4 linked regions of the Homo sapiens genome follow. The protein of the gene in region 4 interacts with the protein of the main gene of each other region in a pairwise test. Each region holds a gene or a part of one and is shown on either strand. Other genes may lie near its edges.

Evidence for each region.
Region 1: the proteins of STRIT1 (region 4) and CD53 interact in binary tests that used the Homo sapiens proteins (3 or more experiments, as listed by UniProt).
Region 2: the proteins of STRIT1 (region 4) and TSPAN15 interact in binary tests that used the Homo sapiens proteins (3 or more experiments, as listed by UniProt).
Region 3: the proteins of STRIT1 (region 4) and MTIF3 interact in binary tests that used the Homo sapiens proteins (3 or more experiments, as listed by UniProt).

The regions. Positions count from the first base shown.
Region 1 is NC_000001.11:110,897,148-110,900,422, forward strand, and holds the end of CD53 (leukocyte surface antigen CD53), read left to right. Parts: intron 1-661; coding exon 662-745; intron 746-1,976; coding exon 1,977-2,048; 3' UTR 2,049-2,775; downstream 2,776-3,275. UniProt on the Homo sapiens protein: Structural component of specialized membrane microdomains known as tetraspanin-enriched microdomains (TERMs), which act as platforms for receptor clustering and signaling.
Region 2 is NC_000010.11:69,447,568-69,454,464, reverse strand, and holds the start of TSPAN15 (tetraspanin-15), read right to left. Parts: upstream 3,001-6,897; 5' UTR 2,871-3,000; coding exon 2,775-2,870; intron 1-2,774. UniProt on the Homo sapiens protein: Part of TspanC8 subgroup, composed of 6 members that interact with the transmembrane metalloprotease ADAM10.
Region 3 is NC_000013.11:27,447,531-27,455,577, forward strand, and holds the start of MTIF3 (translation initiation factor IF-3, mitochondrial), read right to left. Parts: upstream 3,035-8,047; 5' UTR 2,979-3,034; exon of another isoform or gene 2,322-2,978; intron 1-2,321. UniProt on the Homo sapiens protein: IF-3 binds to the 28S ribosomal subunit and shifts the equilibrium between 55S ribosomes and their 39S and 28S subunits in favor of the free subunits, thus enhancing the availability of 28S subunits on which protein synthesis initiation begins.
Region 4 is NC_000003.12:155,290,669-155,297,772, reverse strand, and holds the start of STRIT1 (sarcoplasmic/endoplasmic reticulum calcium ATPase regulator DWORF), read left to right. Parts: upstream 1-4,089; 5' UTR 4,090-4,140; coding exon 4,141-4,153; intron 4,154-6,734; coding exon 6,735-6,829; 3' UTR 6,830-6,833; intron 6,834-6,926; 3' UTR 6,927-7,104.

The sequences.
Region 1 (3,275 bases), on a different chromosome or scaffold from region 4:
AATGAATCATAGGTGAAGGAGTAAGGAGTTGAGGGAGACAGAGTTAGTGGAACTACTGAAACAACCTGTCCAATTAATTTGGACCTCCAGAATAGGCTCTGAGAAGAAGCCACAACTATCTTCCAACTAGACCGAATCCCTGAGGTCTTGTCTCCTCATGTTATCTGCTCCTGAAGGGGTTTGGAAATCTCCAGGGTTTTTCAGGTTTGTGGAGAAAGACTAGGACAACCACTGACCAGCAACTGCCCTGGCACTTGGTAGGGCTATGATGGATTTACTGAATGTTGAAGCAGAAAGTGAAATGCAAACCAATTTTAGTATTGCATGCCCTATGTTAATCTCTGGTCAGCACTGAGTGTTCAAAGACAGTAGGACGTCGGTTGCTGACCTGCCTCTTAGAAGCTAGTTTAACTCAGCGGGTAAGGATCTAGGACTTCTACATTAGTTACCACTGTAATGATAACACCACCAGAAAAGTCTGTAGTTTAATATTTCCCACCTTATGCCTGTTTCTTCATTCACGCAAAGAAAATAAAAATATAATACCTAAGCCTCTTTGTATTACATAAAGCAAAATGCAAAGCACTGTATCTTCCAAATACTTCCTCTTGATATGGTGGAATTATAGAGTAGTATCATTTGTAACTGAAATGTCTTCTAGGGTTGCTATGCGAAAGCAAGACTGTGGTTTCATTCCAATTTCCTGTATATCGGAATCATCACCATCTGTGTATGTGTGATTGAGGTAAGAGCTTAACCACAGGGTTATTGTGAGGATTACATGAGTTAAGTCAGGTAAGATTTCAGAATAATACCAGGTACACAGTATTTACACAATAAATGTTAGCTATTTTTACTAATATATGAATTCCCCCAGCCAAGTAGCAAATAATGTAATTAACAATTTGCTTTAAGGTATATAGAAAATGTGCTATAAGAACATCTCTTGGCCGGGCGTGGTGGCTCACGCCTGTAATCCCAGCACTTTGGGAGGCTGAGGCAGGCAGATCACGAGGTCAGGAGATCAAGACCATCCTGGCTAACATGGTGAAACCCCGTCTCTACTAAAAATACAAAAAATTAACCAGACGTAGTGGCAGGTGCCTGTAGTCCCAGCTACTTGGGAGGCTAAGGTAGGAGAATGGCGTGAACCTGGGAGGCGGAGCTTGTAGTGAGTCAAGATCGTGCCACTGCACTCCTGCCTGGGCGACAGAGCGAGACTCTGTCTCCAGAAAAAAAAAAAAAAAAAGAACATCTCTCTGGTCAATTCATTCCTCAGAGATATGAGTGATTCACATGATTCACAGTCAAACAAAAAAGCCACCAAGCAGAATCCCACTGTGATCCCTCCTCAGCTGGTCTGAAAAATACGAATTGATAAAGTATTTCATTTGAAAACCTGATCTTGCATGTTAAGGGGCTGATGACGAAAATTGTAATCAATTTCCTCTTTGTTTCTGTGCTTAGTTTGACAAGTGATGGGTGAATTGAGGGTAGTTTTTTGTCCTTTTTAATAAAAAAGGACAAAAATAATGTGATATTTCTAACATTTTTCTACCCAAAGTGTTGGGTATATCATAGATTAGTTAAAACTCAATCAGGAAGCTCAGAGAAAATGATTTTTCTCTGTTTGGAAACAAAGGAGGCACAGAGCATGGATAGAGATAACTCATTGCACAGTGTTCAGTGAGCAGAATATGACCATCCTAGCAGCAAGGCTTCTGTGACTTCCTCAGAAGATAAAACATGCTCCAGTACTTTACAGCCTGTTATCTTGTCATCATTGACCCCGTTTCTCTCCTCACTGCTATTCTTTAACCAAAGGAAAGAGCTCCTGAGAGAGACTTGAAAGTAATGGTTGGAAGGGTGGTTTCAGTGTAATGGATACATTCTTTTTCTCAGAGGCCAATCCCAGGCATTGTGAAAGAAATGGCTTTTCTTATGAAGACTTCAAATTTTCCCAACTCTTTTCACAGGTGTTGGGGATGTCCTTTGCACTGACCCTGAACTGCCAGATTGACAAAACCAGCCAGACCATAGGGCTATGATCTGCAGTAGTCCTGTGGTGAAGAGACTTGTTTCATCTCCGGAAATGCAAAACCATTTATAGCATGAAGCCCTACATGATCACTGCAGGATGATCCTCCTCCCATCCTTTCCCTTTTTAGGTCCCTGTCTTATACAACCAGAGAAGTGGGTGTTGGCCAGGCACATCCCATCTCAGGCAGCAAGACAATCTTTCACTCACTGACGGCAGCAGCCATGTCTCTCAAAGTGGTGAAACTAATATCTGAGCATCTTTTAGACAAGAGAGGCAAAGACAAACTGGATTTAATGGCCCAACATCAAAGGGTGAACCCAGGATATGAATTTTTGCATCTTCCCATTGTCGAATTAGTCTCCAGCCTCTAAATAATGCCCAGTCTTCTCCCCAAAGTCAAGCAAGAGACTAGTTGAAGGGAGTTCTGGGGCCAGGCTCACTGGACCATTGTCACAACCCTCTGTTTCTCTTTGACTAAGTGCCCTGGCTACAGGAATTACACAGTTCTCTTTCTCCAAAGGGCAAGATCTCATTTCAATTTCTTTATTAGAGGGCCTTATTGATGTGTTCTAAGTCTTTCCAGAAAAAAACTATCCAGTGATTTATATCCTGATTTCAACCAGTCACTTAGCTGATAATCACAGTAAGAAGACTTCTGGTATTATCTCTCTATCAGATAAGATTTTGTTAATGTACTATTTTACTCTTCAATAAATAAAAGTTTATTATCTCAATCACAACATTGCTATATATCAAACACTCCTTCCATGACCCAGCCTGATTACCCTGATTAATGCACCAAACCAGGTGTATTAATTGTCTCCTGCTGCATAAAATATTACTCCAAAATTTAGTGGCTGAGGACAACAAACATTTATTATCTCATGGTTTTTGTGGGTCAGGAATCTAGGAGCAGCTTAGCTGGGTGATTCTGGTTCACAGTCTCTCATGTAACTGCAATCAACATGTCAGCCTGGGCTGCAGTAACCTTAAGGCTCAACTGAAAGAGGATCTACTTTCAGGCTCTCTCACATCGCTGTTGGCAAGCCTCAGATCTTTGCCACTTGTGCCTTTCCACGGGGCTTCCTTATGACATGGAAGCTGGCTTCCCCCCATTTAAAGACATCCAAGAAAGGGCATGAGATTCGGCACCCAAAACAGAAGCCACAGTTTGTTGTTTTTGTTGTTGTTGTTTTGAGATGGAGACTTGCTTTGTCACATAGGCTGGAGTGCA
Region 2 (6,897 bases), on a different chromosome or scaffold from region 4:
CTCACTGCAACCTCCACCTCCTGGGTTCAAACAATTCTCATGCTTCAGCCTCCCGAGTAGCTGGGATTACAGGCACACACCACCACGCCTGGCTAATTTTTGTATTTTTAGTAGAGATGAGGTTTCACCATGTTAGCCAGGCTGGTCTCAAACTCCAGACCTCGGGTGATCCTCCCGCCTCAGTCTCCCAAAATGCTGGGATTACAAGCATGAGCCACCGGGCCCGGCCCCAGTAGTAATTTTTAAAGTAAGCAAAAAGTCTTACAGAAGGTACAAGGCTGTCATAAAACTTATGGCCCTCCAGACCTAAAAACTGAGATGCAAATTGCTAGCAGTTTGGACTTACAAAGCAAGTAACCCTTCCCTCAACCCCAGAGATGGCACCAGAGATGGCACCAGAGATAATAGGCTTTCCTGTAAATGGTTTCCAAATAACAGTAAACCTGGTCCAGGACAGATTACTTACTCACACTGGGCCCTGCCCTGCAGTCAAACTCTGGCACCTGGAGCTGCTCTGGCAGAGTTGGCAGGTGGCTGAGTTCTTGGCATGGGTGTAGAGACTTTTAAACAGAAATACTTCCAGGGATGGGAGTTAAGGATTTGGTAAGGCAACCTCAGTTGGCAGAGGAGGGATTCCAAGTTCTGAGAACCACCCTGCCCAAGAGAAGCAAGGCAAGGGCCATTGGGTGGGCTTCTCTGGGGGCTGCAAAGGACAGTGACAGAACAAAGCCTTAAAAATTAGAGTTCAGTTTTATTTAACTGCATGAGGTATGTTTGTACTGCACTGATTTTGCTCATATGTCACTCTTTCCCCATATCACTAATCCTAAAACAATTCAGTGAGGTACAGGGCAGAGATTCACTTATTCATTTTATAGATGAGAAAATGGAAACGTGAGGAGGTAGAGAGACTGGTTTGTGATTATATATCTGGGGAAGGGGTGAAGCCCAAAATACAACTCCATCTTCCTACCTCCCCACCCATCAACCTTAGGCTCTTTCAACTCTGATTTACAGAGAGAAGGGCTCACAGAACACACAAGGGGCAGGCACAGAAATCCTGGGGACTTAGGGGACCTATGAGACCATCTAGGGCAGCAGTTTTCAATACTGACTGCACACTAGAATTACCTTAATTCTAGTAAGTAATTTACTACAATTAAGCTTATGTAAATTTAAATAAATACCTATGCCAGGGCACAAGAATCTGATGCAACCGCTGATTTATAGCTCAAATCACCCCCACTCCCATCCCACATATGACCTTCTGTCTCCCTAGAGCTTCCACCAACAGGTCCTTGCTCCATCCTCCGCCCCCCAAACATACTGTTCATCTCTCCTCCACATTACCTAGAGTCAGAGAATTGGATTGGAAACTGGCCTCAGACTAGTCTTCTAGATGGAAAAGTCAATGAACAGTTCTGAGGCCCAAAACAGGAAAGTGACTTGCCTAAGATATCCATAAGTCAGTAACAGAGCTGAATCTGGATCTCCGATTACCAGGCAAGGCCCCACCCACAAAGGGGTCACAGGGAAAGCCAGTCCTGATGGCAAATCCAGCAGCTCCTGCTAGCAGAAGAGACCCAGCAAGGGGCTAAGGAGGACACCAGGGGAGAGTGTGTGTATTTGGTGGGAATGGGGTGTCAGTGACCACCCTGGGTCCCTGGGCAAGTCTGCTCTTGTGGCATACTGCAGGCAGAGAGCGATTCTGGAGTGACAGGGGCGGAGCTGGCCTATAGGAAGATATCCTCATCTCTAGAATAGGGCCCAGCCTAATATGAAACGCCCTTACAGAAACCCAATCTCTTGGGGCAGCTTACACCACAGGTGTCCAAATTCCCTGCCCACGATAGTAATAATGTCTCACACTTCTTGAGCTCTTCACTAGGCACCATACCCGGCCTATTTCACGTAATCTCCGCGAGCATCCTACAAGTTGAATATAATTACTGTGTCCATTTACAGATGAGGAAACCATGGCCGAGAGGAATGAAGTAACTTCCCCAAGATCACTCAGCAAGTGCTCATTTCAGAAACGCACAAACTGAAATTGGAACGATACAGAGATTAGCAATGTTTTAAATAAAAAATAAAATATAAAATAAAAGACCACTCGGAGCGACGGAATTCAAAGCTTGGTTCATGTCTAAACACTACCATCCTGCCCCCTAACAAGGCAGAGGAGGAGGTAAAGCCCAGCGACAGCGGAAACTGAGCACCTAGGTGTGCAGGAGACGTCGTCTGGTGGACTTCTCCTCGCCACGCAGGAGGCACGTGCATCCACCAAAGAGGAAACCAAGACGGAGCGGGGAAGCGTCTCGCTCAGGGGCATCAGCAAGTAACTAGCAGGGACCAGACCCGGAATCCAGGTCTCCCAACCCCGACTGCAAATCCTAACTACTTAAGCTCCACAGGCCGATGCAGAGGCAGTCAGTCCTACCGGGTAGGCGTGGTGGGCGCGGCCAGCGCGTTCACCTCAGCCTAGCCAGCCGGCCAGCGGACGCACAGCGGGCAAACCGCCCAGCCGGTGCACACAGGTGAGCCAGGTGGCACTCGGTCGGTCGACAACCGGCTCTCACACTCCCGAAAGGGCGGCTGAAAATTCAGGCTGAGCTCTGGCCGCCCGAATGTGAGGTAGAAAGACAAGGAGTCCGCGCGCGCTCACCCGCGCACTCCCTGGAGCGGCTAAGTGTGGACCCAACCCCGGGCCAGTGAGGGGGCGGCCGGATTGTGGGTCCCCACCCCCATCCCCGGGCCCTACTGGGGTCACTCACCCAGAACACGGTGGAATAGATGATAAGTGAAAACTTGAGCCAGAGGTAGGAGAAGCGCGCGCAGTAGCGCACCTGCTCCGAGTCCCCGCGCGGCATCCTGGGCGCTCCCCGCGCGGGTTACGGGGGCTCCGGGGCTCTCCGGCTCGGTCCCTCAGCCAGCGCTCGTGGCCCCACCTGCGGCTGCCGGGCTACCAGCCCCGCCACCGGCGTTCTCTCCGGGACTGACACTGGAGCGCGGCAATCACAGCCCCAGCCGGGAAGCCTGCCAGCCCTGGCGGCCAATGGGAGGCCGCGGCTGCCTAGCGTCTGGGAGGGGGCGGGCCAGGGGCGGGGCTGCTGCCCTGGGCCCTAGAGGGGACCAAGAAGGGATGGGAGGGGGAGACGGTCTTGCAAATGAGCTCGCGTGCAACTCTGGAAACGCCTGTGCTAATGCAGGGGGCGTGGGAGAGGTGAACCAGAGGTGCTCTAAGGAGAGAGCGAGCGTGCCTAATCGGGGTACATAGAAATGCAAGCTTTCCTCTTGTCAAGAGGGAAAACTTTGGGAAAAGGGCAAGAATTAATCGCCCAGGTGTTGAAAGTGCAAATGAGTGTGCTAAACGTGAATGGAATAAGGAAGTGGAGTTGCTCGGCTCAGGAAGGCTCAGGGAGGCAGACCAGGGTGGGGCTAATAGGCCCCCATGGAGCTGGAGTCTGAAGTTTGCTCGTGAAACAGATCTGCTGAAGGCCTTCACCAAACGACCTCGGAAGTCCCCTTCTTTTGCCAGGTGATAACCCAGCCTTGGGAAGGGTTCCTCCCGGGAAACCCCATCTTCAAACTAGGTTGAAGGCCTGGCGCGGTGACTCACGCCTGTAATCCCAGCACTTTGGGAGGCTGAGGAGGGCGAATGGCTTGAGCCCCAGGAGTTCAAGACCAGCCTGGGCAACATGGCAAAACGCCGACTCTATAATTAAAAAAAATAAAAAGCCAGGCACGGTGGCGCGCCTGTTGTCCCAGCTACTTGGGAGACAGGCGGGAGAATCGCTTGAGTCAGGGAAGTCAAGGCTGCAGTGAGCCGTGATTGTGCCAGTGCACTCCAGCCTGGGAGACAGAGTGAGACCCTCTCTCCAAAACAAAAACAAAAACAAGGCCGGGCACGGTGGCTCACGCCTGTAATACCAACACTTTGGGAGGCCAAGGCGTGCGGATCACTTGAGGTCAGGAGTTCGAGACTAGCCTGGACAACGTGGTGAAACCCTGTCTCTACTAAGAAATACAAAAAAAATTAGCCGGGCAGGGTGGTGCATGCCTGTAGTCCCAGCTACTGGGGAGGCTGAAGCAGGAGAATCGCTTGAACCCGGGAGGCGGAAGTTACAGTGAACCGAGATCCCGCCACTGCACTCCAGCCTGGGTGACAAAGGGAGACTCCATCTCAAAAAAACAAAAAACAAACAAACAGAAACTATAGGTGAGGGAGGCAGCTCCCTCTCTTGCACATAGCCAGCCACTAACCCAGCCTCCTCCCACCTGGCCTTTTCTCAGCCTGGGACCAGAGGTGGCTGTGAGCCTGTCTCTCATGCTAGATGGTCCCAGCTTTACTCACTGTTGTTTCCTGTCTCCCAAGCCTAGCTCAGCCTGGGACTTGGGAGCCAGACAATCCCTGCTGTGGCCTTCAGTAATTAAATCCATGGCAGAGGTCATAAGCTCTAGCAGTGCTGGGTGGGGTCCCTGGTGGTGATTTCAGGAACGACACTCTTATACAAGTCCCCAGTCCTGGGTTCCCAGGGCTCCTGCATACACAAACTCAACAGAGAAGGACAGACTCAGAGACTTAGTCCAGGCTGGCTTTAGCCCCCAGAGCTCTGCCCTAGGAGGAAGAAAGCAAGATTGGGGGGTGGGGAGGGAGGCAGTGCCATGCCTGGAAGGGTAAAAGGAAACCAATTTCCTGGTACAAAACAAACAAACCTTGGGAGGATGTTTGTGTGGGGTAGAGAAATAGAACCAGAGCCAGGCACAGTGGCTCATGCCTGTAATCCCTGCACTTTGGGAGGCCAAGGTGAGAGGTTTGCTTGAGTCCAGGAGTTTCAGACCAGTCTGGGCAACGTAGCAAGACCTCATCTCCACTGAAAATCAAAAAAATTAGCCAAGCATGGTGTCTCGTGCCTGTAGTCCCAGCTACTTGGGAGGGTGAGGTGGGGGTATCACTTCTCGAGCCCAAAAGATCAAGGCTGCAGTGAGCTATGATTGTGCTACGGCACTCCAGCCTGGACAACAAAGCAAGACCCTGTCTCAAAAAAAAAACAACAGGGAAAAGAAAAGGTGGAAAGAGAACCAGAGAGTAATGCAAGCTGCCCTCAAATGATTATCTGAGGGCCAAGAAGGCATCTTACCATAGTGTTAAAAGTTGTCCATTCTGGCCGGGCGCGGTGGCTCACACCTGTAATCCCAACACTTTGGGAGGCCAAGGCAGGGGGATCACTCGAGGTCAGGAGCTCAAGATCAGCCTGGCCAACATGGTGAAACCCTGGCTCTACTAAAAATACAAAAATTAGCCGGGCATGGTGATGGGTGCCTGTAATCCCAGCTACTCGGGAGGCTGAGGCAGGAGAATCACTTGAACCTGGATAGCAGAGGTTGCAATGAGTCAAGATCGTGCCACTGCACTCCAGCCTGGATGACAGAGCGAGACTCGGTCCCCAAAAAAAAAAAAAGTTGTCCTTTCTGTCCTTTGAGGAGGAAGACTAACTTTTTATTCCTCTTTGAGGGCTAGAGCCTCCACCCAGCCCTGCAGAGCTAAGTCCACACCCATTATTTGAGGTGCTAGTCTCTTCCCCACCCATAGAAGCTTGGAACCCTCTTCATACCCTGGAAGGCTAGTTTAGCCTCCTAGTTCCCTTTCATTCTCCATATTTAAACTACAGTCGAAACTGCCACACACCTCCATCAGGTTTCCTTCCCAGTTGCCCCTGGACTTCTATTCTTCCCTTCTGGCCTCTCCAGCCAGCTGCATTTTCTCTCATCTTTCAAATATTCCCTGGTGACACACAAGCTTCTTAGCAAGCCCTCTCAGCTCTCCCTAAGCCCTCGAGGTGAGCCATCCCTACAAAGAGCCTTGGAGCTCTTTGGGGCTGGCACAGCCTTTCCCTGGCTGCTGGGCTTCTTCACTGTGCCTCCCCACCTGCAATCCTGACCCTGACCCCAAGCACTAGGGCTCCTCCTGAACCACATTTGCAAACACTGAGACCTCAGAAGAAATGGCCATCTGTTTCCCACTTTTCCTCCTTTAGCCAGGAACTCTGGCCTAGGGGCCAGCAGGCCTGGTGCAAATCCTGGTTTTGCCATTACTTTTTTGTAGGACTGTTAGAATGTGTGGCATAGTGTGACACACAGGTGTGAATGCAACCCTAGCTGCAGACTAAAAGCACCTGGTAAGCTTTAAATGTATCCTGATATTCAAGCCCCACTGCAGTCAAGTCAAAATCCCCACCAACAGGAACGTGGTAATCAGTATTATTTTTAAACTCCCCAGGTAATTTCTCATTTTTATGTTTATTTTTATTTTTTTGAGAGGCAGTCTTGCTCTGTCACCCAGGCTGGAGTGCAGTGGCGTGATCTTGACTCACTGCAACCTCCGCTATACAGGTTCAAGTGATTCTCCTGCCTCAGCCTACCAAGTAGCTGACATTACAGGCCCCCGCCACCACACCCAGCTAATTTTTGTATTTTAGTAGAGACAAGTTTCACCATGTTGGTCAGGCTGGTCTTGAACTCCTGACCTCAAATCATCAGCCCACCTCCGCCTCCCTAAGTGCTAGGATTACAGACATGAGCCATTGTGTCTGGACTCCCCCAGGTAATTTCTAAAGTGCAACCAGAATTAAGCATCACTGGTACAGAGGTAGTCATGAGGGTAAGGTTGTCAGCCAACATCTTACCAGAAAGCCACATTCCAGAAGTCACTTACTCAGCTATCCACTGATATACTGGTAAATATTTAAAAACTAGCTGGTGTGGGGGATTCCAATTTCCATAAAGTAAATACTTCCACCATGTCTGATTTTAAGTTACCAACTTCACTTCAATGAACTTGGGAGTTCAGAGGCATGCAGAGTCTGGAACAATCACTCAGTATCCCATGCAAATATC
Region 3 (8,047 bases), on a different chromosome or scaffold from region 4:
ATAATGCATAACTTTATAGTATGATATCCATTTTTAATTCGATGATTACTCAGACTTTATCTGAGTTTTGACAAGTGCATATACCTTTGTAACCAAAACTCCTATCGACAGAACATCACCATTATCCCAGGAAGTTCCCTCTTGCCATTTCCAAGTCAATCTCCATCCCCAAGAGGCAACTATTGTTCTGATTTTTTCCCATCAGTCTGTCCTAAGACTTCATATAAATGGAACCAAACAATATCTACTCTTTGTTGTAAGACATCTCAGCATGTTTCGAGATTCATTCACGTTGTACGGATCATTACCTTGTTCCTTTTTATTTCTAAGAAGTGTCCTCCAAGTATATGAATATATCGCAGTTTTTAAATCTAGTTTTCGTTAATGAACACCTAGGCTGTTCCCTTTATTTATTTATTTATTTTTGGCTCTTATGAATAGCTGCTGTGAACATTCTTGTACCAAAAAAAAGACAATTATTACTGCTCCAAAGGACAGCTGTATTCCCTGTATAATTCATTATTTTGCATTCTACCGGAAGTACTGATAAAATATTTGCAGGGAAACTTCCTGGAACATGATTTAAATATGTGGTTTAGTAGATATGAGGGGTGGGTGGGTGGGCATTCTCGTCCTATAAAAAATTGCTTGCATGCATTTGAAATCATGTGGACTGAAGAGACGAAAATAACTTCTATTATTTGTTCACTCACTGCTTTTCTCATACAGCTGATATTCACAAGCTCATACTGTTATCTGTTCTTTCCTGGGAGATTGGATCAAAGTTGCATAGATTCTAGCGGACTAAATATTTGTGAAATTAATTTTGCCAATTCTCATGACTCTAAGAACTCTTTTACACCTTCCAAAGAAGTTTCATAAAGTCCTTGCTTCTGCCTGCAAACTGTCCCAGTTGCCCCATTCTGGCCTGAGCAGTGCAGCCTTAATCCCAGAGGGCCTGCGCTACCGTTACTGGGCCTTCATGCTCCCCTCCCTTGGCTCTGGTTTTGCTCTTCCATAGGGAGCACAAAGTGTACTCTCCATAATGAGGCTGAGCTGTTTACGTGCTAGAACTCCCATTTAGAACACTGGAAAAAGCCAACATTATATCTTTGGCCAACTATTTAACCTTATTTCTTTAGCTATTAAATTGAAATAATAACCATATGTTTTAAAAAGCTTTTAAACCCAGAGCTAAAGACTCTGTATTAAAAACTGGACTTACGGCCGGGCACGGTGGCTCACGCCTGTAATCCCAGCACTTTGGGGAGGCTGAGGAAGGCAGATCACTTGAGGTCAGAAGTTCAAGACCAGCCTGGCCGACATGGTGAAACCCCATCTCTACTAAAAATACAAAAAAACTAGCCGGGCCTGGTGGCGTGAGCCTGTATTCCCAGCTACTTGGGAGGCTGAGGCAGGAGAATCACTTGAACCCGGGAAGCAGAGGTTGCAATGAGCTGAGATCGTGCACCGCACTCCAGCCTAAGCATCCAGCCTAGGCAACAGGGTGAGACTCTCAAAAAAAATTTTTTTTTAACTTATTCTCCTATGTTAATCCTATGTTAGTCTTCTTCCAGAACTCTAGTGATGGGATCACTACCCATCCACAACCTCCAGTCACCTCCAAGACACCTTTGACGCCTCCACTTTCCCAGTCAACCCAACACCAAGCCTCATCGACTTCATTTCCTAAACCCCACTCGAATCCATCCAGTCCTCTCCGTATCCACTGTCACCACCGTCAGTTTAAAACATCGACCACCTCGTTTGGATTCCTGCCAGTCTCCTAACTCGGCTTGAGCCCTGGCAACCAGTTCCCACTGCACTGCGGTCACTACACCCAGGACCTTCCTCACCTTAAATAAAACTGCCCCGAGATTAAAGATCTACACCTTCGCCAGGCCAAAAGGCCCTTCCCACCTCTCCAGTTTCTTCTTTATGCCTAGGCCACACTGGCCATTCGGTTTTTGAAATACAGTACTCTCGTCCTTGGTTTAGGAAACGCCAGATCCTTAGCGCATTCTTCTGATTACCTTCCAAACTAAGCCAGTTCTCCCATCCCTCCCCCAATTTACTGAGCTTAACACTGAATGCTTCTACAGTCCAGTTGACCTTTCCTTTAAAACATTCATTACAATTACAGTTTTGTGATGATCTTAGCACTGCTGTTCTCCATCACTAGACCGTAAACTCTACGAAGCAGGAACAAAATGGACTTATTCGTTACTGTGTTGTGCCTGACAGAATGAATAGTAGTCGATTTTCAGATTCTTCTCTCCATCCTCTACTTTTCTAAGACTTAGGCCTTTCACAACACGTACTTGAAACTGAGACTTCTCAGTAAGAGAACTTCGTTTACTTGGTTCAAGTCTTAAGCCACGGAGCCCACTAAATGACAAATGAGAAAAAAAATCCCAGTCACTTCGCGACCTTCCCCCATAAGGCCTCCTCCCGCAACAGCAGGCAGCAAGAACAACGCATTTGTCCAGCATGTCCTGCGCAGGCGCCCTTCGCCTGGCTCGCTCTGCCCCACCTGTGCCAGGCAGTAAGCCGCAAGAGCACTTCCGGGAGCCCCCGACCCGGTTGTTGGTAAGTCGGCGGCGACGCCCACCTGCAGAACGGGACCGGCGGAGCGCCAGGGCTAGAGACGGGACGTAGCGACGTACTGCGTGCGTGCGTGCGCACAAACGAGGGCGCGCATGTCGGGACGGAACTAGAAAAGCTCAGTGGGGCTGGCGGCAACTCTAGGTCTAACATCCCTCGGAAGTTCGTGCAGCGGCCTCGCTGAAAATGGCTTTACAGCCCGGCAGAACCCTCCGACTCCGCAGCAGGACCTGCGGAGCCTCTCCGCCCTCGGTACCGGCGGGACGGGGTAGCCCTGACCTTCCGGGTGCCTCCTCCACAGGGGCGCCCCCTAAGGCCACGCCCTCCCGATGCCGGTCCGCGCACCGCTCCGCACGCCTCATATTTAGCATTACCTGTGCTGGGGCAAGCGATTGACATACTGTAGCGGACGCAAGTACAGCGGATCTGCGGCGAGTCCCCTTCGCTCTCCGTAGTGGGCGGGGCTTCACCCCGCGTCCTTTAAAGGAAAGGTGATGGGCGGAGCCACGTTTTTCTACTGTTGGGATTCAGTTCCGCCGACAGAAAATGCGGAGAACGCGGAGGAAGTCCCTGAGGGGAAATTGCTGCTCACCTGGCTCCCGCTGCTCCGCAGGTGCGGTGAAGGCTAATGTCGAATTTCTGCAGCAATCGGAGCAGCCCTTACTCCAGTTACATTAACACCAATCTCGGTCTCCCACTAGGGCTTTATAAATTGCTTTCATAAACGTCTTTTTAATGTAACACTGAATAAAATGTTTTATAAGCGTCTTTTATAAGGATCGTAAGTGAAAGGGCGCTGTCTCCGATTTGCAGGTGAGCAGACAGCTTCGGAGTGAGAACGGCTCCCCGCGGGTCCCCGGTGGCGCGCGGCTCCCGGAGGCAAAACAAAGCTGGGGCCGGGGCGTCGGAGCCTCCGCGTTGTAGTTGGGAGAGGTTCGAACGGGGCCCCAGCTGGCGAAAGGGAAAACGGACCCGGACCCGGACCCGTGGAGCCTGCTCGAAAGCCGGGTGCTGGGGGTCTGGGCCCCGTGTCCCCCCTCTTTTTCTTCTTCAATAAGAAATTCCTCAAGGGCAGACTGCGAGTCCACAGTCGTGAAGCCACCTAATCTGGCTTCATACCTGGAATGTTTGGATTCCTGGTACGAAGAAAAACTAACATTTATTGGCTACTTGTCCACTGGAAGGCGTTGTCTTATTTCTCATTAACTCCTTGAGTCAGCATTACGTCTTTTATTACAGATGACACAACTACTAAAGCTTTAAATAGTTCTTTGGGAGCAAAGACGAAATCTCCATTTCCTTTTTAGCTGCTGGTAGCTCGACGCTCACTGTTAAAATAGGGAGGTAATGAAACAACTCTTGTGTGAGACCGAAAGTCCAGGTGTGCATCTTGGCCATTTCCAAGTTAATCAAGAAGAATTAAGGATTCATTTTATTCTATCAAAATTATTTCTCAATGCCAAGATATTTTGTGTGACGTAGATTCGGGGACAGACTGAGTAGCACAATACCTGGGAAAAGTTAGGTGCTCAGCAATTATAATTGCCCACATTTGTGATTGCTTTTGCCTATGTGCCAGACACTGTTCTACGCACTGAACATATCTCAAGTTATTCAATCTTCAGGACAACCTTATGAGCCAATTATTATTATTACCCATTTTACAGATGAGGGAACTGAAACAAATTTGCCCAAGGTCGCACAACTAGTAGCAGAATCAAGAATAAAAAAGCCAAAAAACCCCAAACCCAGGCAAACTTTAAATGTTCCTTGCATTGCTAGACTGAAGTAGTGAGAGAAACAGTAAACAGTACGAGTCCATGAAAACATTAAAAGGATGTGAAGTATGTACAAGTAACTGAAACATTTAATGCCCAAACTAAAGACTTAAAATTTGCTAAGGTAATAGCACAGGTAGATTCACACCAAGTAATCACTGGTAACTGAAGCTACCGGCCAGCATCCATTTGCAGTCCGTCTTTGAAGGCAGCTGTGTCCAGAGCAGGTGGTTTAGGAAGCTTTCTAGACTTCCATTGTCAGATGTCTCCACGCCTAGAAGATGGTGCTTTAGTGTTCCTGGGAGGAGACATGCAGAGATGGGGTGGCAATTACAGACATGCCCACAGATGGAGAGAAGCCATTTTTTTCATCTTTTCCCTTGAACTCTTCTTTGACCTCCAGCCGAAATGGAGCTTGGCAGCTTTTGTGGGGTTTTTTGTTTTTTTGTTTTGTTTTGTTTTGTTTTGTTTTTGGAGATGGAGTCTCTCTGTGTCGCCCAGGCTGGAGTGCAGTGGCGCGATCTCGGCTCACTGCAACCTCCACCTCGCGGGTTCAAGCGATTCTCCTGCCTCAGCCTCCCGAGTAGCTGGGATTATAGGCGCGTGCCACTGGGTCGGGCTAATTTTTGTATTTTTAGTAGAGACGGGGTTTCACCATATTGGCCAGTCTGATCTCGAACTCCTGACCTCAGGTGATCCACCCCACTCGGCCTCCCAAAGTGGTAGGATTACGGGTGTGAGCCACCACGCCCGGCCACTTGGAAGCTTTTAAAGAGTCATTGAGAGCCTTGAGCTGTGCTTGGTGGGGGCAGACTTTGAAGATCCTTGAATAAAGATGAAGAGGTTTGGGGAAATGCTATTACTATGCCACAGATCTTTAATAAACTACTCCGTTATGTACATAGAAGAGGACTCTGAGACATGTGTAGAGCTTTCCCAATTGTTATCGTTTCTACATATAATTTAACCCCCTCAAAAAATGTAACTCAATAAGACTCAAATCATGGTGACTCTAAAAATGCCTATATTTTCTATTACATAGTAATTTCTACGTTAATTTCCATAGCATGCCCATGAACTTTCTCTTTCAATGAATATATTGGTGATTTGCTCTGATGAAGGAATAATGGAAATATCCCGTCCCTCTCTTTGCCTGTTAGCTTTCCAAGTCCTCCCACTTTTCCCCAACGCCGAGGGGACCTTCCAAAACAGGATTGTATGTGAGATTTACTTGCTTAGCCCAAGGTCATTGAGGTACAACATATCTGATCCACAAAAGAATCAGTCTGTGGGTGATTTCTTTAAAAAGTTATGAACACTGGGCTGCGTCTTTATAATGCCACAATGACTAACAATTCATTTAAAAATCTAATACTAATAAAAATCCTGGTGGTGGTTGTTTTTTTGTTTTGTTTGTTTGTTTTTTGAGACGGAGTCTCACTCTGCTGCCGAGGCTGGAGTGCAGTGGCACCGTGTCGGCTCTGCAACCTCCGCCTCCTGGATTCAAGCAGTTCTCCTGCCTCAGCCTCCCAAGTAGCTGGGATTATAGGCACCCACTACCACGCCTGGCTAGTTTTTATATTTTTAGTACAGACGGGATTTCACCATGTTGGCCAGGCTGGTCTCGAACTCCTGACCTCAGGTAATCCACCTGCCTCGGCCCCAAAAAGTGCTGGGATTACAGGCATGAGCCACCATGCCCAGTCAAAATCTTGGGTTTATTTTGAAGATACGAAGCATCTTCAAACTTTAAAGCCCATGTGGGTTCAGATATTCAGCATATTCTTTAACAAATAATTGTTCATAGATTAGATACTCCTCCCTCTCCAGATTATAAACTCTTACCTGGGCAGTTTTGCTAAAATTGGGGGAATTTAAGTCTATTATGTGTGAGATCCTATGTAGTGCCAACTAAATGTAGCTGAGAGCAGTTATCTTAAACAGCAGCAACTCTGTCATTACAAGGCCAGTTTAATAGCCAAAAGGGTCCATGCTCTCCTTAGTTGATGTTTACAGACTTGTCAAGAGTCATAGAAACAAGGCATGCAAGAGGCTTTGGCTGAGTGTTAGGTAACTCGTTCAAAGCTTCCTGAAGATACTGTCAGCCCAATATTGTGTGTCTATTATTGTCTGTTAGAAACTATTAAAGCCGAAAGCCTTCTTATGAAATCTCTACCATTTTCCTCAGGCAGGACTATAATTAATCCATTCCAAACATGTAAAACATCTCTATATTTAAAACAAGCCAAAACAAAACTCGAGGCCAGGAGATTTAGCTTCTCATTTCAATGTTTTATAAGACGGGAGTCTTTTCCTTTACATAACCTAAATCCATCATGTTGCTACTTAGTCTGGTTCTGCAGTAGAGCTGGAGAACATCTGGTGACCACATCTGTGTTATAACCCTTTGTGTGCTCTCAAACTATTTGCTAGATTCAAAATAAATTTCCTTACCATGAGTGAGATTTCCCATAACATTAGACTCCAGATTAATCATTTCTCTTGTCAGAATATGATGGCCTCAGTTATTAAAACGTGGTGGTTGTGAATCAGCAAAATGTCTAAAATGAATGACATATTGTAATAAAGTTTTAAAAACTTTCATATCTGCCAAATAAAAATATTTGTATATGGAAGATCCACTTCTGTGAAAAGTCTCTTGTGCAACTGCAGAAGCAGAAAATAGGTTCAGAAGTTTCATTTGGAACACAACAGAGACATGTCTTTCCATTTCAGAGGTGTTGAGTTTTGAGGTGATTCAGTTAACTTTGATCGTTTTGAAACAATGAAAATAATTTCTATTACCATCATAGGACATCATGCAGAACAACAAAGAGCTAGTACAAAGTGTACCATGCTGACTGTTGTGTAGATAAAGCAAAACAGTACCAAATGATTAGTTAGCATTTTACATTTAGAATGCAACCCAGCCGGGCACAGTGTCTCATGCCTGTAACCCCAGGACTTTGGGAGACCGAGGCAAGCAGATCATGAGGTCAGGAGTTCAAGACCAGCGTGGCCAACATGACGAAACCCCATCTCTACTAAAAATACAAAAAAAAAAAAAAAAAAGAAAAAAGATTAGCTGGGCATGGTGGTGTGTGCCTGTAGTCCCAGCTACTTGAGAGGCGGAGGCAGGAGAATCCCTTGAACCAGGGAGGCGGAGGTTGCAGTGAGCCAAGATTGCGCCACTGCACTCCAGCCTGGATGACAGAGGGAGACTCCATCTCAAAACAAAAAAAAAAAAGAATGCAACCCTATACTATTTTTAAACACCTATGTGAGACGTAGTTACAAGGCTGTTTAAGGAGGGGAGGACTGACAGCAAATAGAATGTTTGTGATAAAATAAATTTGTGCTCTCACAGTTTCCCATCTTTGAGGCAAATGGAATTAAAGGCAAATTATTCCATTTTTGAAAGTTCCTCAAATGTGGAATTTCAGATGTTTACTGTATAGGGAAGTAGACTTTCAACTGTACATTGGAGTCATTGTTTTGCTGCTTTTTCACCTTGCAAGTTGCTAGGTTCTGCTGCAAAGATTTTTAAAGCCTGCTTTGTTAGCAGCCTAGGACACATCCATGACCTTACCAAAGTGAAAGTGAAAGCTCTTAGTTTTTCTTTTTTTTTTTTTTTGCAACAGTAAATCTACTAATTTTACAGTCAG
Region 4 (7,104 bases):
CATGAGCCACTGCACCCAACCTGTCTTTGGTTCTTGACCGTTATTTTGTGTCTAGGTATTGGTCTCTTTGGGTTTATTCTACCTAGAATTAATTGAGCTTCTTGAATATGTACGTTAACATTTTTCACAAATTTGGGAAGCTTTTGGCCATGATTTATTCAAATATTTTTTCTGCCCTTTCTCTTCTTCTTTTAGGACTCTAATTATGCATATGTTGATATGCTTGATGGTGTCCCACAGATCTCTAAGGCCATATTCATTATTATTTTTTCTTCTTGTTTCTTGTACAGGATAATCTCAATCAAACTGCCTTCAAATTAACTGATTCTTTCATCTGCCTGCTCAATCTGCTGTTGAGCCTCTAGTAAAATTTTCATTTCAGTCATTGCACCTTTCAACTTCAGAATTTGTTTGCTCTTTTAAAAATAGTATTTATCTGGCTACTGATATTGTCTTTGCTGAGATGGCATTCTTTTGCTTTTTTTAGTTATTTGAAAATACTTAAAATAGCTGACATAAAGTCTTTGTTAGTCAGTCTAATTTATAGACCTTCTCAGAAATAGTTATTTTTGATAGTTTTTTTATCCCTTTGTATGGGCATACATTTTTGTTCCTTTGCATATCTCATAACTTTTTTTTGTTGAAAGTTAGTAGTTTTAAATAATGTCAACTCTTAAATCAGATTCTACCTCCTCCCAAGAGTTTGTTGTCATTGCTGTTTGTTGTTGTTATTATTCTGAACTGATTGTGTACAATTTGCATTCTTTGTTGTATGTGACCACTAAAATTTTTGCTCAATTAGATTAGTTATCAACTAATGATTGGACAATGATTTCTTTAAATGCCTATAACTAGTATGCCTTCCAGACTTTAATGATGGGCTCTGTGTATGTGTTGAGGTATGCCTTTAACACTCAGCCAGGCAGTTGACAACTGCCTTACCATTTGCTTTCCATTTTGAGCCTCAAGGTTAGCCAGAGGTGAAAGCTTAGGGCCTTTTCAGGTCTTTCCTAAGCATACCCACAGCCATGAGGTCATGCCCATAGCTGAACATATGCATGTAGCCTTCTAGATTCTTAAGGATATGTGAAACTTTTCAAACCCCTATTGACATCTCATTCCCTAGATTCTCCTTTTAAGCTTTTTAGTTAGCCTATTGTTCACTCTGTTACCTAGGCAGCTGTGATGTTAAACAATTGCCTCTAATTGTTTTCAACAAATGCCCTGGGAGTGGGTACTTTTCACACAGTGGAAGTTCTGAGTCTTATCAAATAAAGACAGCCTTGCAGGTGAGGTCTTTGGGAGAACCACCAGACAGTTTAAATAATTACTGTTCTCTGAAACTGAGACTTTGAAAGAGTTCTGTTCTGCTCTGTCTCCTCTGGTGGCTGCTAGTCTGCTAGTTTTCACTGAGATTTTGGGATATTGTTTAAGGCTGCTACAAAGCTGGAGATGGGGGAGATGAGAATAGGCCAAATTAAAACATCACAAAACTCTTGCTGTTCTTACCTAGATTCCAGCTCCCCCAGTTGCTGTAAGTCCTTGGTTAATTTCTACAATTCTTAAAAATTGATTCAAAAATTTTAGATGGCTTTCTTGGTGCTCTTATGAAGGAAAGATATTTTGGAGTCCCCCACTCCTCTATTTTTGCAGATGTCACTTTCTTTTATTTGTTTATATTCTTATTTATAGATTATTCTAATGTTACTGGTAATTAAATACACTGTATTATCTATATATGCATATATTATAAGGCTAGAGTATAGTTAAGATCATTTTATTTCTTATTACTCTTTTAGGTATTGCCATAAGTAAACCTTTGTTTAGAGTGCAAACTAAGCTACCTTATACTGCACTTATTACATCCACCTACCCAGTCAGCCAGCCATGAAGCAAAGATCCATGAGCATCCACCATGGTCAGGTCTATGTACTATAATTCCAGACATTAGTAGTGAAAAATATTTGAAAAGTGAAGAATTCTTAAATATTTTAAAGAAAAACCAAATATTTAAATTTTTCGGCTCACATATCTCTGAAGAATCTAATGTCACCTTGAGAATAAGGGATTTGAGAGCTAAATGTTTAAGACAGTATGTAAAGTAAAAAAGTAGAAAATGTTCCTAATTAGTATGTCCTAAGAGAAAGATTAGAAAACGGTCAAATATAGGCCCTTGGGTTTATAAGCTCAAAGTGAAACCAGTCTATTAATGAATAAAACATCCTTTCCTGATTAAATATTATAAAACTTATATTTTTTAAAAAATTTACTGATGATATAACCAAGGAAATGAGATTCTAGGTTGAATTCTTTTCTGAAGTCTGAGAAATTCATGTTGATTAAGTTAGTTTTTTCTCTTCTTCTTTCCATAGAAAAGTAAGGAAAATAAATGATGAATTATAAACTAATCCCTCCTCAAACTCCAAATTGACAGCAATAATGTTAATAATAGTCAATTTCATGTCAAGAAGAAAGCTTAATATAATTGAAATGGAAATGAGTATTTAAAATGTAGAAACCTTTTCATATGTTTCAGGCAAATTATTTTATTTTATTATGTATGTTTGTGCTCTTTGTGGGTACCACACTGTTTGTTTTAAATATCATTTTTTTCCTTAAGATAATTAGTGTTCATTTGAACTTACTGAATTAACATTTTTTATATTTAAATGAGATCAATAACATTTTTATTTCTTCTCTCTCTTTTGGCCTCAGTTAACCTTTGTTTAACGTATTATTATTTAATATTGAAAAAAATACCCAACTTTGCCAGGTAAGCAAGGGATTTTGTTGCATAAACAATACGTAGTTTTTCTGCTTACCTGACATAGCCAGACATTTTTTCAATATTAAATAATATATTGAGAGAGAGACTGAGGAGAGAGATGACAACTTGACATAAATGATATAAATGTGCCAGATTCTTGGCTGCACACTCTAATCTATAGGTACATTATTTGAGGTAGAAAGTCAAATGTTCTTCTTGCCTGTGAGAGTGGGAGGATTCTGAATTCATATAATAGCAAGGAGTTCAGTGTCACTGAAGTTATCACTGCAAATGGAAGAGTAGAGAAATAAGGGTTTTTAGGTGTCTAAACAAAGAGTTGGGATTTTTATTGTCTAGGAGATGAAGAACTATTGGTGGATTTTTGAGCAGTGATGGAACATGGTCATTTGCAAGGCAATATCACTCTTGGAACTCTGTGGAGATAAATTTGATCAGGCCAGACCTGCCTTTACAGGTCTTAATCTTATGTCAAATTTTTTTTGGGAAGATGCTCACAGGGTCACTCTGCAAAACTTTTCCAGCCAGATCCCCAATTTAAAGTTATTCCAATGAGAATATAGAGAATAGTCTAGGTCAGTTACATAAACCAGTTTGGACTTTGAAAAATGAAATGTCCTATTTTTATACATTGCTAATAAAAACAACAAGCTTATGACTGCTTCCTAAAAATTCTAGGCGACGTCTGTATTGTTTTAGTTTCTAGTACATTTATATTAACACTTTTTGTTTTAGAATAGTTCAAAGAAAGGGGCACCATTTCATTTTATGTTTTCCACCTGTAAAGTAATAAAGAACTGTCTACATTTCATACAGACTTTCATTTCATCTTTATGCGACTCCCATGAGTAGGTATTATTATCCTCATTTTAAAACTAAAGAAGCTGATTCCCAGGTTAAGCAACTTGGCTTTCATTACAGAAAGAGCTGGAATTTGAACCCAAGTCTCTCCAACATCAAAATCCTTTCTTTCTAATATATCACCCTTCTCCTTGATAGCACTTGTATAGGTGGAATGTTGTTTTTCCTCTGTACACCTTCTTTATAGAACATTTTCTTCATGTTACCTAAAGGCATGGTGCAAATTAAAAACCTGCGAATATCTGCATTAGGATAATTCAGCTTACCTAATTGTTTAGGTCATGTAGCCCCTCGTTTCCTCCATAATAATAGAATAAAGAGCCAGAGGAGTTCTGCTTTCCCATGACTTACATCACTCTGCAGACAATTGGCAGCCAGGAGACGGGCAGCTGCCGCAATCTTCAGATTTCTCTCTATTTAAAGTTCAAAGAGACGCTGGATAACAAAAGAAAGAGGTAAGCGTGGCCTGACCTAGCCACCCACCAACAGGAATAATGGCTGAAAAAGGTAAGATTTAAGGCATAGGATTCTCTTGGCAAAAAAAAAAAAAAGGCTTCTTGACTTTGGTTCATTTATGTTTCTTGGTGTTTCCCAGTCACTCTAAAAAATGTGATATCTATGCTAAATGACCATTAACCATATATGTTAGTGTGGCTGCAAAAATGCATTAATTATGTAATCTATGGATCAGGTCTATAGGTTATGAATAATTTTAAAATGATCAACAAAGGAAAAGAGCTTAATTTTGTTAATACTTATTTTGAAAGGTGAGTTAGAAATCAGTTCTCCTGATTTCAATTCTGAGCCAGAATTGAAGACAGTTAAGTTCTGTGTCAGACCTGCTAGTAAATGGCTATGTGAGTTTGCAGAAGTCCCTATACCTCTCTGAGTCTGTTTTCTGACAGTAAAATGAGAATATTGGGCTCAGGCATCTATTCCACACCTAAAATTTTTGTTCCACATCTAACTTTTTTCTGGTTTTTAAACATTTTTTTGTATTTATATTTTATAGTTATATAAAATAATTGATTCCAATTTGTCAAAAAGTTGAATATATACTGTATCTAAGAAATGGTTTTTAAATATTAAACAGGAATTTTTGCTTTGAATCTTGACAATGACCTTGTGAAATATGCATATCATCATCATCCCCATTTTATAGATAAGAAAATGGAGACACAGCAGTTTAGTAACTTGTTCATGATCGCTAAAGAGTGGTGGCACCAGGTGTTTAACCTGGACAGTCTTTTCCAGAGCACAGTGTCCTCAAGAACACTTCCAGCTGTAACTACTTTGATATGCTCAGAACTGGACAAGAGAGAAGCATTTTAGAATTACACTTCATGTTTAAGAGATGTTTTGTTCTTATTTGTGCTAGTAATGTAAGTGACATATGCAAAGTATGTTGTGCTCTTACGTATTTCTACTTCCAAACAATTCCACAGGTATTAGTAAAGTTGAAAACATTAGTGTTAAAAAAACAATGGAATGTATACTTTGGGTGTTAAAATGCACAGTTAGTGCTACTGGTACTATTTTACAAGGAAAGTAAATAATGAGATACTTTTAGGGCTTTGTGATATGTAAATTTTATTAAAATATGCATGTATAAAATATAAATGCACAATTAAAGGGTTAATATTAATTTTCAAATTCTTTGAAATTGGGAAAAATATAAAGCCACATACCTAGACAGTTCAAAAAAATTACTGCTATGTACTTCCATTGTAATGGTACCTTAATTCATAAAAAGGCTTTCGTCCAAATGAGAGTAAAGGGCAACTCATGTTGTTTGCTTTATCCTTAAGCAATACCACATGTCAAGTAAAGAGAAGAGTTTTCCATTTAGTGCTTAATGCCTTATACAAGGTCACAGTGAGATGGAGAAACAAGAAAAGCATGTTGAATTTTGTCAGTTAAGAGAGACTCTAGCATTCTTGGAAAAATTGATTTAAAGTATTAAAATTTATTTCAACTTCAGAAAGTTTGCTTTTATAAAAGTGTCTTCTAATTTTAAATGTGTCTCATCTCCTGATGATTTTATTTTAATAGCATTTTTAAAAATTTCACATTTTAAAGTGATGGAAATTGTAATAGGAGTATAATTGCTAAGAATATGCATTCTCTCTTTTAACTAATGGCATAAGATCTAATTATGCTTTGCAGTTAAGAATATATCTGAGTCCTTAACACAGGGACATTAATTCCATAGAATGTTTTTCTGCGCTCTTTCTAAATCTTTTTGTGTGATGTAGGTGTGGATTTCTGTGTGTATGCCTGTGTATGTTTGCTTGAAAGAACAAGAGTTACATGCAGTGCATACTTTAAAAAAGATACTTGTATAAATTGCTTTTTACAGGTAAGAGTACAAATAGGAGGCACAGAAGGAATCATATATAACAAACGCCATTTATGTGTGTGTTGGATTATTACTGCCCATTGATTCAGGTTCAGTGCTGGTTGTTATACTGAACAATTTTTAAACAATAGAAATTCTTTTCTGTAGTCAAGAATGGTTACATAATGTATGATACTTTCCTTTTCCCTGTGATATTTAAAATTACATTCAGCTATTGAGGCCAAGGACAGTTCTCAATACCTTTCCTTGTGTTATAATTATTTACTTTAGTGGGAATTGCCTCAGAGTTGTATTAGATTGTTTTTTATATAAATAGCTGCTGTATATGTTATTGCACAAATGCATGAATGTGTTCTGTATACACTAAACACACACGGTGGTTAGAGTTTACAAAGCTTTGCACATATGTTATGTCATTTGATGTTCAAAACTATTCCAGGAGGTAGAGAGCACAAGTTTCATTATTCATATTTTACCAGTAGGAAAGTTCAAGCCCAGAATTGCCAAAGGTCACATAACAGTAAAAGACCCATGGTTTGATTCAAAATACCCAGGGTTTATGACAGTCTCACGTATTCTCTGTAGAAAAGAAAAAATAATTATGTATGGGTATAACTAGAGAGTGTATGCTTTTTTCTTAATGTTACCAAATTCCTTTTATTCTCTTGACACAGAAAATTTAATATGAAAATGACCAATATAATCTGTTTTCTACGGTTTATTTTAAAGCGGGGTCTACATTTTCACACCTTCTGGTTCCTATTCTTCTCCTGATTGGCTGGATTGTGGGCTGCATCATAATGATTTATGTTGTCTTCTCTTAGAAAGGTAAGGGTTTTAATAATTGAATGTTTATTTATAGTCTAAATTACTCCAGAAACAATCTTTTCTATTTTACTAATGGAATGTTTTGTCTTTCAGGCAAGAAGATATCAGATTGACATCATTTAGAAGAATTAAGAAAACTATGAACATGACTGATTATTAAATGTCTCATGTTAAACAATGCAATGTTTGACATCACTTTACAAACTTGGATCATAAACTGGCACTTTGGTATGCATAAGAATTTCTTCAGGACAATAAGAAATTATGAGTG